2 linked regions of the Homo sapiens genome follow. The protein of the gene in region 2 interacts with the protein of the main gene of each other region in a pairwise test. Each region holds a gene or a part of one and is shown on either strand. Other genes may lie near its edges.

Region 1 (3,500 bases), on a different chromosome or scaffold from region 2:
CAAACTCTGGCTCAAGTGATCCTCCCACCTTAGGATTACAGGCATGAGCCACTGTTCCTGGCCTGGGCACATATTTTGTAATCAGGGGAAAAGCAACAAAAATCAATACATGCTCATGGTAGAAAATATGAAAACACAGAAGATAACTTTTAAATAATTATTCATAATCCCAATCATTATTTACATTTTGACATATAACAGATTATTTCAAAATTCTGTCTTCGAGTGTCACTCTGGGCACTGAGTCTGAGCCAAGGCCTCATCTGTTCAAAAAGCCACAGGTGATGACGACCAGCTAAGAAAGCTACTGCCTATCAGGCTAAAGAATCTCTTTTAATAGAAACTGTAATAAATCATCAAATATTTCTAAATGGCTAACTATTTAAGAGAGAACAAAAGAACAGAGCAAAAATGATTCTAGAAAAATCACCTTAAAGGAAATCCTCAGCTGGGTGCAGTGGCTCACATCTGTAATCCTAGCAATTTGGGAAGCCAAGGTGGGAGGACTGCTTGAGCCCCGGAGTCCCAGGCCAGCCTGGGCAACATGGCAAGACCCTGTCTCTACAAAAAAATGTTAGCTAGGCATGGTGGTACACCTGTGGTCCCAGTTCCTTGGGAGGCTGAGGCAAGAGGATCACTTGAGCCCAGGAGGTCGAGGCTGCAGTGAGCCGTGCTCACACCACCGTACTCCAGCCTGGGCAACAGAGCAAGACCCCATTTCAAAAAAAAAAAAAAGAAACAAAAGAAAAGAAATCTTCAAATATGGCTTGGATTTAACTGGTTTTATCATTATTATCATTATTGAGCAAGAGACAGCATCTTGCTCTGTCACCCAGGCTGAGTGCAGTGGCACAATCATAGCTCACCACAGCCTCAAACTTCTGATTCAGACCCTCCCACTTCAGTCTCCTGAGCAGCTGAGACTACAGGTGGGTATCACCATGCCTAATTTAAAACAATTTTTTAGAGATGGGGTCTCACTACATTGCTCAGGCTGGTCTCAAACTCTTGGCCTCAAATGATCCTCTTGCCTCGGCTTCTGGAGTAGCTGGGATTACAGCAGGTATGAGCCATAACCCCCAATTTAATTGGTTAATTATAATAGCAAAATTTTACCATCCCATTACACTACAAATAACTTTTTTTTTTTTTTTTGAGATGGAGTTTCACTCTGTCGCCCAGGTTGGAGTGCAGTGGTGCAATCTTGGCTTACTGCAACCCCTGCCTCCTGGGTTGGAGCAATTCTGCCTGAGCCTCCCGAGTAGCTGGGATTACAGGTGTGCACAACCACGCCCAGCTAATTTTTGTATTTTTAGTAGAGACGAGGTTTCGCCATGTTGGCCAGGCTGGTCTTGAACTCCTGACCTCAGGTAGTACACCCACCTCGGCCTCCCAGATGCTGGGATTACAGGTGTGAGCGACCGCGCTCAGCCTACACTACAAATAACTTCTAAAATGTAGCTGGTGCCTCGCTATTTGTGGGGATTGGTTCTAGGACCTCCCATGGATTCCAAAATCCACAGAAACTCAAGTCTCTGATATAAAATGGCACAGTATTTGCACATCGCCTATGTATATCCTCCTGTATACTTGAAATTATCCCTAGCTTGGCCAGGCGTGGTGGCTGACACCTGTAATCCCAGCACTTTGGGAGGCAGAGACAGGCAGATCACCTGAAGTCAGGAGTTCAAGACCATCCTGGCCGACATGGTGAAACCGCATCTCTATTAAAAATACAAAAATTAGCCAGACATGGTGGCAGGTGCCTGTAATCCCAGCTACTCAGGAGGCTGAGGCAGGAAAATCGCTGGAACCTGGGAGGTGGAGGTTGCAGTGAGCTGAGATTGCACCACTACACTCCAGCCTGGGCTACAGAGCGAGACTCCGTCTAAAAAAAAAAGAAAGAAATTATCTCTAGCTTACACTACACGAGCTAATACAATGAGTGAGACTCCGTTTAAAAAAAAAAAAAGAAAGAAATTATCTCTAGCTTACACTACACTAGCTAATACAATGTAAATGCTAAATAGTTGTTATACTACATTGTTTAGCGAATAATGACAAGAAAAAAATCTGTACATGTTCAGTACAGGAGCAATTTTTTCCCTGAATATTTATGATCTGCAGCTGGTTGAATCCATGGATGATGAACCCATGAATATGGGTTGAATATGGAGGACTAGCTGTACAACTTTCAAAGTGCTTCTTGATTCTGATCCTGATATGGCTAATAAAGCTTCTATCAGATCAGCCCTCCACAAATAAAAAGTACTAACTCTAAACAAAACAACAACTACCTAAAGACACCACAAAGTCAGATTCTAGAGGGGAAGTCAACAGTTGGGAGAAAGGAATGGCATGAGTTGAGTTTCCCATTTTTGTGGCTCATAATCTGAGAGCAGTAAAGGCTGAACTCCCACAGAAAACTCAGTCTTTTTGGCCTGAAGAACTAGAGAACAGTTTGGGGTAACAATAGCTGCCAGAAAACAAGGGAGAGAAACCAGAGCACTAGAGAGTGAGAGTCCCAACTTCTATATATAAACACTGCCCAAATCTCTAGCAGATTCCATAACAACACACACAAGGCAGACTCCAAGCGGCCTAGTTAAGGATAAAAGAAACCGAGTGAGATTTAAGATGCCACCCAAGAGACAGACTTTGTAGCTTGAGAATAACCAAATTAACTGCCTATTAGAACAAAACAAGTCAATACTCTTTGGAGAAATATAACAGAATCCACAGTCTTCATAAAATAACATTCATAAATGTCCAGGATACAATCCGGAACTCTCAATATACCAAAAAACAAATCAAGTCAAACTAAAAAACCAAAACCAAAACCAAACAACAAAAACCAGGAATATTGTGTTTAATTCTCAAAAAGAACAATCCTGAGACGACCCAGATGTTGCTGTATTAGCAAAGAATTAAAAACAACCATTATAACTATGCTCAATGACATGATGGAAAATGTTCTCAAAATGAAAAATGATAGGAAATCTCAGCAAAGAAAAAATGAAAGAAGCAAAAGGAAATTGTAGAACTGAAAAATATAATACGTAAAATTTAAAAATTCACCAAATGGACGTAACTGTAGAATGGAGATGAGAAAGGAAAGAGTGAGTGAATATGAAAATGTATCAAATGATCCAATCTTAAAAAGGCAGAAAAAATAGTTGAAAAAAACAACGAATCTGTGGGTCTACATCAAAATGTGTAAGATATGTACAACTGGAGTCCTATATGGAGAGCAAAGAATCGGAAAACAAAATCTGAAGAAATAATGGCTAAAAATGTTAAAAATATGGCAAAAGACAAAAAAATTTCAGATTAAAGAACCTCAGAAAACTCCAAGCAAAATGAAAACAGAAAATCACATATAGATTCATTATGGTCCAATGTCTGAAAACCAAAAATAGAAAAAATTTTGAAAACAGAGAAAAACAAATGAAAAACATAAAGAAACTATGACATAATAAGTGTGTGTTGTTTAAACACCA
Region 2 (5,599 bases):
TGTCCTTTTTCAGAGCTATTTTGTTCACTTGTAATACAGTATCATCATTTATACAAAATCTTTAATAATTAGACCAGAAATAATGAAATGGTTTAGTAAGAAATGTTTCTGCATAAACTTACTCCAACTTTGAAGGAGGCAGAATATTAAAGAGCTAAATGCCTTTTTTATATTATAATTTCATCACATACCAGGCTTTCTTACTCATTAAATATCTGACACAAAAAATAATAATTGAGTAATAGTATGCTTCACATTTTAAAAATAATGAAGGAAAAATTCTAAAGGCTGGATGCAGTGGCTCACACTGGTAATCCCAGCACTTTGGGAGGCCAAGGTGAGCAGATCGCTTGAAGCCAAGAGTTTTGAGATCAGCCTGGAAAGCAGGGTGAAACCCCGTCTCTACTAAAAATACAAAAATTAGCTGGGCATGGTGGCACACACCTGTAATCCCAGCTAGTCAGGTGGCTGAAATATGAGAACTGTTTGAACCCAGGAGACAGAGGTTGCAGTGAGCCGAGATCGCGCCATTGCATTCTGGCCTGGGCGACAGAGCGAGACTCTGTCTCAAAAAGAAAAGAAATGAAAAGAAAAATGTTAAATGACTTTATTAAAGTTTAGTGGTAGCTCTTAAATTTGAAACAGGTTGCATTTTTAAAGAACCATCCTACTGATGTCACCGGAGGATATGTAAAAAAAAAATTGCTGGGTCAAAATTGCAGAAGAGGCTCCCAAATAATTATGGAGGACAACATGATTGGATTAAGTTTTTTTTTTTCCTGCTCAATGAAAAATGGGTAAATCTACCCATTATCATCCATAACAGTTGAAATCTATGCCCTGAAATGTACACGACCTCACAGAACAAGGAACAATGGAGCATGAGCACATGTCTGTTTAACACTGAAGCATCTGAATAGCTTAATATATTCGGCTGGGAGCAGCAGTATCAATTCTTATCTTAACAGTAATTCATTTATTCAACACACATTAAGGCACCAAATTTGGCACTGTTGGAAACTCGGCAGTGGTAAATAAATAAAAATGGTCCTTACCCTTATGAAGCTTTTAGTTTACTGAGAGAAAGATAATGAACAAGAATTGAGTGCTGTCTATGATAAACGCCATGAAGGAAAGGTACAGAGGGCGCCACAGAGCAGGGAAAACTTCTCCAAGGAGGGTCTACTTAAGATAGTTGTCATTTAAAGACTGGGAAATCACCATAAGAGCAGAAGGACAAGCATTCCATGCAGAGGAAGTGTCAGGTGTGACAGCCTTAAGGTGGAAGGAGTTTGTGTGTGTGCTGAGAGCATAGAGCAGGGTGGCTGCAGGGTGGTGATTGAGGCGGTTAACAGAAATTTGGAGAGGGAGGGAGGACCAGATCATGTGGCGCCCTGTAAGCCACAGTAAGGAGTTGGAACATTCAAAGACATTGGGCCACAAGTGGTGGCTCATGCCTGTAATCCCACCACTTTGGGAGGCCGAGGTGGGAGGACCACTTGAGCCCAGGAGTTTGAGAACAGCCTGGCCAACATGGCGAAACCCCATCTCTACAAAAAATATAAAAATTAGCCGGGTTGTGGTGGCATGCACCTGTAGTCCCATCTACTTGGGAGGCTGAGGTGGGAGGAAGGCTTGAGCCCAGGAGGCAAACGTTGCAGCGAGCCAAGATTGCACCACCGCACTCGAGCCTGTCTCAAAACAAACAAACAAAATAGAAGTTTTCAAACACAAGAGCATCATGGTCTCATTTATGTCTAGAAAACATGTATCAGGCTGCTGTGGCAGGGAAAAAAGTAGAAGTGAGGAGGCCACTGTGGTTGCCGTGAGCAGAGATGACAGGGCTGGACCAGCACAATGTCTACAGTGATTGAAAGAAGTGGACACAGGCTGGGCACGGTGGCTCACACCTGTAATCCCAGCACTTTGGCAGTCTGAGGGGGTGGATTGCTTGAGCCCAGGAGTTCAAGGCCAGCCTGGGCAGCATGGCAAAACCCAGTCTCTATAAAAAATTAGCCGGGTGTGGTGATGCACCCCTGTGGTCCCAGCTACTTGGGAGGCTGAGGCGGCAGGATGGCCTGAGCTTGGAAGGTTGAGGCTGCAGTGAGCCGTGATCACACCACTGCACTCCAGCCTGGGAAAGAGTGAGAATCTGTCTCAAACAACAACAACAACACAGCCAAGACATTTTTGTTCTTTTTGAGACAAGGTCTCACTCGATCACCCAGGCTGGAGTGCAGTGATGTGATCCTGGCTCATTGCAACCTCTGCCTCCCGGGCTCAAGCAGTCCTCCCACCTCAGCCTCCCAAGTAGCTGAAACTACAGGTGCACACCACCGTGCCTGACTAATTTTTGTATTTTTTGGTAGAGACAAAGTCTTGCTAAGTTGCCCAGGCTGGTCTCAAACTCCTGAGCTCAAGTGATCTGCCTGCCTCAGTCTCCCAAAGTGCCAGGATTACAGGCATGAGCCACTGTGCCCAGCCAGCAAGAATATGTTGATGCAGTAAAAATAATAGGACACCCCAAAAATAGAAAGAAAAGGTAGGATTACTTATAGACCAGATGAGAGGAATGAAGAAGAGGAGGAAATCAAAACTGAGAAAAGAACAGACTATGTCAAGGAGGGAATCAGCTCAATACTCCACGTGTTAAGTTAGGGATGTCTGTGGAGCACCCACGCTGAAATGGAAGCGAAGCAGTTGGATCTACAGAGTCTGGAGCTCAGAGGAGAGGTCTGGGCTGTCCATATAAATTTGGATTTAGTACATTCTAGTTTTTGAAGTACTTATTCAGTTTTACATTTCTAAGAATGTGTTAGATTTTGATAAAACAAGAATGAGTCAGTAAAATGTGCTAGTTTTTGATTTATCAAATACTTCTAGGGTAAGGGGAAGAAAGGTTATCTGTACAGTGTTCTGCTTTTAAATAGCTAAGATGACATATAAACATATCCCTCCAAACTTTTTTTTTTCTGAGACGGGAGTCTCACTCTGTTGCCCAGGCTGGAGTGCAGTGGCGTGATCTCAGCTCACTGCAACCTCTGCCTCCCGGGTTCAAGTGATTCTCCTGCCTCAGCCTTCCAAGTAGCTGGGACTACAGGCACAAACCACCATACCCAGCTAATTTTTGTATTTTTAGTAGAGACAGGGTTTCACCATGTTGATCAGGCTGGTCTCAAACTCCCGAACTCAAATGATCTGCCCACCTCAGCCTCCCAAAGTGCTGGGATTACAGGTGTGAGCCACTGTGCCCGGCCTAAACCTGGAATTTTTTGGAGTTTCACTCTCGTCGCCCAGGCTGGAGTGCAGTGGCGTGATATCGGCTCACTGCAACCTCTGTCTGCCGGGTACAAGTGATTCTCCAGCCTCAGTCTCCCGAGTAGCTAGGATTACAGGTGCCTGCCACCACACTCAGCTAATTTTTGTATTTTTAGTAGAGACAGGGTTTCACCGTGTTGGCCAGGCTGGTCTCGAACTGCTGACCTCAGGTGATCCACCCGCCTCGGCCTCCCAAAGTGCTGGGATTACAGGCGTGAGCCACCGCCCCCAGCCAACCTGGAATTTTTTTAAGGGAACATTTCAAACAGGGCTAGGGCAAATAGAATAAACCACAACTGTGAAACTTAAAGTTTTCAGTTGTAACTTTTCTCAAAAGACAAATGGTGTTTTAGTATCACAAAGAAGTAAATAATTTTCTATTTCCCTCTAATTTTTTCTATTGCTTTTCTGCTAGTTTCTCTTTCATAAAAACTTTTATAATGCTGTTTGTTTTTTAAGAAAGAAAATTGTAGTCCTTGGGAAAGGTGTAATGTAGTGATTGGCAGCAATGAAGGTAAAAACTTGACCCAACACATATAATGAGATTTTTTTTTTTCTTTTTCTTTTCTTGTTTTTTGAGGAAGGGTCTCACTGCCACCCAGGTGGGAGTGCAATAGTGCGATCATGGCTCACTATAGCCTCAACCTCCTGGGCTCAGGTGATCCTCCCATTTCAGCCTCCCAAGAAGCAGGGACTACAGGCATGTGCCAACACTCTTGTCCAATTTTTTGGTGTTTTTTCTAGAGATGGGGTTTCATCATGTTTCCAAGGCTGGTCTCAAACTCCTGGGCTCAAGTGATCCACCTGCCTTGGCCTCCCAAAGTGCTAGGATTATAGGCGTTAGCTACTGTGCCTGGCCAAGATTTCTCATAGTCAAAGAATACTTGTTGGTAAACCTCACTTTACAAAAGAGAAGAAATGTGTCTTCCTCTAACTTTGAACATGCTTTAGCATTACTTACAGATCTGGGTTGCCCTGAGAATCTCCGGTTATAATCATTAATATCCTGATGCAATCTCAGAACATCCTGAGACTGATCATCTTCACCAAATACTGTTAGGAGTAAGGTTACCTGTATATTACAGAAAAAAAAATTATTTCAACTTTCTGCATCATTATGTTTTTTTCATTTTGTGTTATTATTCAATAGAATGATAAAGGCTTCTATATTTATATTTCACTCATTTTTAAATAAAGGCAACCTGGGGGAGGGGAGTAAGTAACTGCTTTGCAATAAAATCCAATGCAACATAGAATTTGAACTCCTATAAAATAGACACCATATCCAACTACTGGCCTAATATTTTCCTGTCCACACCAGGGGTAAATTCCTTAGTTCTCTATTTGGGCTAACAGATATTTGAAGATAAAAGAAGGATGAGGAAACATTCAGGAGGAAAGTGACATAAAATATATAACTGTCACTTTAAGACAGAAAAATTATGGTTTTCTTTTTCAGTATTAAAATAATGATTGGTTATTCTTACTGGTATTTGAAAGATCTTTGAATGCTACCAACCATAATATAAAGATTATGTTATTGCAGGGACCAGCTCTCAAACACCAATTCCTACTATAATAAAAAAAAGAAATTTTTGATATTGTCATATAACATAATACATTTAACCCTGCTTCCTTCATGGTTGTGGTAACAAGGATGTACAAATGTCCCAGGACCATACTGGGGTAATCTGACGGTGACAGTACCTTGAAAAATAAATACACTTTAGGACGTAGCACCCTTATAGAAAATGGTCACTAATGATTGTATGATGACATAAAAACGGGAAGGAGTGGTGGCCGATTTAGTTTTAAATCATTTAGTTGTTGTTTTGTCCTTCCTCAGTTCAGCTGTAAAACCAAGGCTTCCCACTGTTTAGATGCTTTCCAAACAGCTAAAAGAAGGCGTGACTAAGCACAGAAGGTGGTGAGAACAGCAGGTGCAGCCATCACTTCCTTCACAAATTTGTTAATAAAAATGCATTCTTTCAATACACATTAATGGAACACCTATGGCGGGCCAGGCACTCTGCTTAGTGCTAGGTATGCCAGAAAAATGAAGTCAAAAGCCTGCTCCAGGGTGACTACAACACCCACAAGGAAAGGGGAGGAAGACCTGGCCGACAGCCTTACATGGTCCTGGGGCAGGTGCAAGAATGCTGCTGTGAGAGCGAGGATCTCTTCTGCCTGGGGTGGTCAGAAAGCCTGATACTGAGCCAAACCTGGAAATGGTGGTAGGACTGTGGCTGGTGTGCACGCATTCAAGGGGAGAAGTGGTGAA

Evidence for each region.
Region 1: the proteins of RNF170 (region 2) and PSMA6 interact in binary tests that used the Homo sapiens proteins (3 or more experiments, as listed by UniProt).

Annotation. Positions count from the first base shown.
Region 1 is NC_000014.9:35,302,382-35,305,881, reverse strand, and holds part of PSMA6 (proteasome subunit alpha type-6), read right to left. Parts: intron 1-3,500. UniProt on the Homo sapiens protein: Component of the 20S core proteasome complex involved in the proteolytic degradation of most intracellular proteins. This complex plays numerous essential roles within the cell by associating with different regulatory particles.
Region 2 is NC_000008.11:42,857,466-42,863,064, forward strand, and holds part of RNF170 (E3 ubiquitin-protein ligase RNF170), read right to left. Parts: intron 4,391-5,599; coding exon 4,280-4,390; intron 1-4,279. UniProt on the Homo sapiens protein: E3 ubiquitin-protein ligase that plays an essential role in stimulus-induced inositol 1,4,5-trisphosphate receptor type 1 (ITPR1) ubiquitination and degradation via the endoplasmic reticulum-associated degradation (ERAD) pathway.